Regions from separate parts of the Homo sapiens genome. Here region 2 is linked to region 1. The links come from fine-mapping of genetic effects on gene expression. Tissue or cell type: sigmoid colon. Region 1 holds a variant in brackets; the other region holds the start of a gene. All regions are shown on one strand. Distances are from middle to middle.

Region 1 (2,760 bases):
AGAAAGTATGATCCTCAAATCTCATAGAAAATTGGAAATGAAACGGAAAAGCCTGTCTTGAAGACATTAATTTTGTTTGGGGGATTAATTTTACATGCTCCCAATGCTCACTAATGGTTTCCATTCCTCTGTGAAGTCTAATATCTACTTAGCTGTTTATCCTGAATCATAAGCCAACCTCTAGCAATTGTCCAGAAGAGACTGAGCTGTGTTTTTTGTTGGAGGCTGTGGATGAATTTGAGTAGGTGGGTTTTGGCCCTTTGGTGCAATGAATAGGCAGGGCCTAGTATATTAGTGAGATTAAGCTGTAATAGACCCACCAGATGCCACCAGTTTAACACAAACATCTATTCCTTGCTCACAAATCTGGGTGGGCAGTCAGTTCAGAGAGGTGGTTGCCTTGCATGCCATCACTCAGGGACCAAGACTCCTTTTTTCTTGTGTCTCCACCATGACCCAGAGCCATACTGTGTTTTGCATCCAGATGATGGAAGGGGGAAGAGGTGGAGGGGCAGAGAGGCTAGGCCATATGGGCCAGACCTCGGTCTTAGAGGGCCCTCACCTTTTCATTCACTTTCATTAGCTGATGCCAAGTCACGTGGCCCAGCTGGCCACAAAGGAGGCTGGAGAATGTATCCTGTTGTATGCCGAAGAACAGAAGAAAATATTGGATTTTGGTGAACCTGGTAGTTCACTATAGATGAGATTGAGAGAGCCCTGGCCAAGGGGTCAGGACCTGGCTGCCAGCAATAGCTTGGCCTCTGTCAGGTGTGAGCCTTGGGCAAATCATCTTAATTGAAGCCCTGAGTTGGATGCTTTCTATCAAATCTTCCATTTTTTGAGCACATATTATGTGCAGGACATTACAAATAATGAGAGTCGTACATATCATTTTCCTGAAATTGTCTCTGTCTTGCTGTTTATCTTAAAAAACCAACAAAAAACTCCAACTCACTTTTTTCCTAACTATAAAAGCAATGCATGCTTTGGTTAAAAAAATTATAAAAATATTTTTTAAAAATATGCGGTGGCTCATGTCTGTAATCCCAGCACTTTGGGAGGCTGAGGCTGGCGGATCACCTGAGGTCGGTTGTTCAAGACCAGCCTGACCAACATGTAGAAATCCTGTCTCTACTAATAATACAAAAATTAGCCAGGTGTGGTGGCATGAGCTTATAATCCCAGCTACTCAGGAGGCTGAGGTAGGAGAATCGCTTGAACCGGGGAGGTGGAGGTTGTGGTGAGCTGAGATCATGCCATTGCACTCCAGCCTGGATGACAAGAGCGAAACTCCATCAAAAACAAAAACAAAAACAAAAACAAAAAACAGGTAATAAGAACTTATTGTAAATATTTTGGTATATTTCTTTCCAGTGTTGTCGTGTATCTATTATGTCTCGTGTGTATCCTCGTGTAACTATTATGTATTACGCATGTCATGTATGCATTTCTAGATATGAAATTATACAGTTTGGTGTATTATTTTCTTCCCTTAGCCATTCTAGAAATTTTATTCAATTACTGACAACTACAAATTATCATTTTCAATGGTTTTGTAATATTTT[G/A]CAGTGTGAACATATCCTAATGTATTTAGTCATCGCCCTGTGATTGACATTTGGGTTGTTTCTAATTCATATCACTTTGAAAACTTTGGAACTTGACTCTTCTGCCAGAATATGGCTGGCAGGGGGCTGGGCTGCCTCCACACTCTGGGGAGAGAGGCCAACACTTGTTGCCAGGACTAGGGCAGAACTTAGAACTGCAAGGAGGTGGCAGAGTCCCCTGCATAGTCTCCTGGGTTTGTCCATCACAGCTTGGACTGAGGCTGACTGCCCTGATCAAGTGTTCATAGTTGGCTCAGTAGGTACATCAGGGGTGTCACTGGCCAGGCATGTGGGTGTGCTGAGGGCTGGTCACCTCTGGTCCGCAGAACCTGGTTGAAGGGGATCCTGGCACAGCCAGGTAGAGGCAGATTTCTCAGTGGGAGAGTGCTGCCACTCTGTGGAAACATTTCAGAAGTGCATGTCACAAGGGCCACATTCTGCTTTCACTCTGATCAGAAAGCAGAGATCAAAAGTCAGGTCACAGAACTCACACACACACTCTCTTGCACACACAGCAGGCACCTTCAAAGGCATAAATGCCCCTTGCTGCTAACCTGTGGGTGAGGAATGCTGTGACGTTCATGGGTGTGTTTATTTCTATTAGCCTTGATCTCAGTTCCTAAATCCAGGTCACACAACAAAGAGGGTAGTATGATGGCATACTTCGAATTTTAGATATTGTAAAATCGTGGCCTTTTTAGAGTTAAAAAAATTTTTTAAAGTTAATCCCAGTCTAACTTTGTACTTACAGAGAAGCTGTTTCCTTTGCCTACTTCCATAAAGCTTAACGGCAGAGGCACGGCCGGGAGTTCAGCCTCCTTATTCTCTAACTACCTCTTTCCTGAATGGTGATGCCACTCAAATGCTTTCAGGGGCTTTACCACTGGAGGCTTTTGAAGTAATGTGTAGCATTGGCATAGATCTTTAATTTTTCCATGTAGGGAAGCAATTTCTACTTTTTTAGATGGTGCCGCTTTATTTTCCTTGTATTGCTACATTTCTTTAAAATGTCTTATGGCATAAGTGTAGAAATATACACATTTTCAAGGAACATTGAAATTCTAATTTGTAACTTTTTCATGAAATAATGTTGTGACACTCAGTAAAGATTCATCTGGAACCAGAAATCTCTGACTTAGGGCCACAGTGACTAAAG
Region 2 (2,760 bases), 40 kb before region 1:
GAGTATTGCATCCAAGTCTGGCCAACCCCCTTCCTCACTGTGAGGGTATCTATGTAAACTGAAGTACATTATTAGAAAAAGGATAGGTTGGGAATAGACATGAACCCTTGGTGATACATAGAATTACTGAAAGAGCCAGAGATGCCTAGGGAAAGGGGGATTATGGGCACAGCAGATCAATCTCAGGATTTGCAGAGGATCCCACTGTGAAAGACTTTTTTGTCTTTCAGGCTTCTCTTGTGTGGCCCCTGGGAGCAGTCTAGCACCTGTGGGCAGAAGCTGTAGGGAAAAGGAGCAGATTTTATCTCTATAAGAAACTTTCTTGTGGTGAAAACTATCTAGAAATGGAATGAGAAAGTGGTGAGCTCCCCATTATTGGAGGTGTTCAAGTATAGGCTGAGCGGTGACTTGTCACGAAAACTGTATGACAGACCCAAACATCAACGGGGTGCTTAGATTCTTTGATCTCGGGTCAGTTCCACACAAGACAGGCTCTGTGTTAGTGAGGACCCAGTGGTGTTTTTGAACAGGCGGCAGGATAACAATGGTATATAAAATAAATGCAGAGAAAGACCTCCACATCAAGCCAACCCCTCCTCCCTACCTGTAAGTTTTCCACCTGAGTGAGCTCTGGCTCCAGCTGCACTTGTCAAACTCCCATTGTTAGAGCACAGATAAATGCTTCCGGCCACCCAAGCAGGAGAGGCCCACCTCAACTTAAGGGCTACTCTATTTTAGTTTTCCGTAGCTGGAGATTGAGTATCACGCTTTTCTAATCTTGTGCTTCTGAAAGGGCCCTGTTCTCTCTTGAACCCCACCCCCTCCTCCTTTCACAGATCAAATACCAAGTACATTGGACAGATAGAAGTTCGAATGAGAAAATGCATTTTAATAAAATCCCATTGATTTTTGTGGATGTAAGTCAAGGAACAGGCACCTAAAGAGTCTTCCATCCCCTGCCGTCTCCCGCCTCTCTCCTGACCTACACCGGGCGGTCATACATCGATTGGCTTCCTAGATAATAGATCGTGCCACCCGGTAGGGACCTCTGGGGACGCGCCGGGAGCTGGAAGAGTCGCACGCAGCAGCCCAACCCTGAGTTAATCAAACTAGCAACAGGATCTCAAGCAGCAGCGACGGCGGTGGCAAGAGTAGCGGTGACGGCGGCGGCGGCGGCGGCGGCAGCATTATGCGTGATTACTGACAGGCACCAGCTGCTGCCGCCACAGCCGTCTCAAACGCACTATGTGGACTCTCCGATCTAGAGGCAGATTCCTGACTAATCCCAGAGGGCTGGCCCAGCCTGTGCTCCCCGGGCTGCTAGGAAGCGATGACCACTCTTGTTAGCCCAAGTTGAAGAAAGCCGGGCTGTGCCTGGGAGCCGAGAGAGGCGGTAATATTTAGAAGCTGCACAGGAGAGGAACATGAACTGACGAGTAAACATGTATGGAAATTATTCTCACTTCATGAAGTTTCCCGCAGGCTATGGAGGTAAGTATCTCCCTTGGGCTTCACTGCGTGGACCTGTATGAGAGACTGAGAAGAAATTGGGAAATACGAATGACTGGATTAGTATTGAATTAAAAGGAGAACATATATGTTTATATGCATATATAGTGTGTATATAGCGTTTCAGCGTGTGTGTGCACGCGTGCATGAGAGAGGAGAGGAGGAAAGAATGGTCTGTAGGTGAGGATACGTTTGCATATCAGAATGAGGATACGGGGATATTCTAAGGAGAGAGTAAACCAACATGCTTGAGAATGTGTCTGAGACAAAGATAGAATAAGAGCATTGTTATAACCCAGTGTGTTTGTGCGGGTGTGAAAAGTGGAAGAGTTAACGGGGAATTACTATGATGTTCCTATTAGCCAACTTGTAATGAGAAAAAATGTGATTAAAAAGGTTTTGCCTATCTTGAGGGTTCCTGGGATACTTTGTAACAAGGGCATGATTGTTTTACTCAAAAGCAGATTTCCCTTTAATTGGATTTTTAAAAAGAAAACATAGTGCTTTAATTTGCTACTGTGTTTTCCTTCCCCTGTTTTCTTTCCTTTGATTTGCTAATAGCCTCTTCTCTCCTCCCCTGCTGCTGCCCCCAATTCTACTGCAAGAGTTGCTGCAATCACTTCCACTCTGGGGGTAGAGATCTGGGGATGGGGGGTTGGGGCTCTTAGAGAATTGGCAAACTGAAGATTCAAGTCACCGTGCCAGGCAGGGCAGCCCAGTCACACTTCACAGAAGCTTCCGGAGACTAGGTCCTCAGGCTGCCTTAACGCCCAAGCACATCCGTCCCAAGGATCCCTTGATTTAGTGACAGAAACAGTACAGCCGCCCAGCTCTGAGTAAATGGAAGCAACAGCTGACCAACTGGCCTGTCGCTTGTCAGTTGGAGGCATGCAGCTTATGTTGCTGGGAGCCAAAGAAAGATTCTGGCAGGCAAGACAGCAGAAATTCTTATAAGGTTTTGAAAATTGAAAAGTCCCTGCTCTCCAGACTTCCTCCGTGGACCAATTCATCTGAAGGCTTGGGACTAAAGCTTGCCTAACTTGGCTGGGCAGAACCCCCTGGGAGGCATGGTGACACACTGCAAGGTAGAAGTGATCTCTGTCACCAGGAGGTGTTAGACCTGGGAGTTTGCACATTCATTCAGGGTAGTTTTTATGAGGCAGGCATGGTGTTGGGCACTGGGAATACAAATATGAATGAGACACAGTCTCTGCCCTTTGGGACTGGGGCAGGCTTGTTACACAGGCACAT

Direction of the effects. Alleles are on the strand shown, and positions count from the first base shown. SD is a standard deviation of normalised expression in the study named.
For the expression in sigmoid colon of the gene that starts at base 1,210 in region 2, G is the high allele of the variant in region 1 and A is the other (moderate effect, 0.65 SD a copy in GTEx).

What was found. PIP is the estimated chance that this variant, and not a neighbour inherited with it, causes the effect.
Region 2: RXRG starts here. The variant in region 1 is fine-mapped to the expression of RXRG in sigmoid colon (GTEx, PIP above 0.99).

Annotation. Positions count from the first base shown.
Region 1 is chr1:165,403,315-165,406,074 of GRCh38, reverse strand. All of the region lies in intron 9 of RXRG (retinoid X receptor gamma), which reads left to right. Among named protein-coding and RNA genes, the nearest start is that of RXRG, 40 kb to the left of the region's middle. The variant G/A (reference allele first, on the strand shown) is at 1,566.
Region 2 is chr1:165,443,576-165,446,335 of GRCh38, reverse strand. RXRG (retinoid X receptor gamma) reads left to right here and starts at 1,210. Exons shown (of 10, transcript NM_006917.5): 1 at 1,210-1,491. The coding sequence starts at 1,443.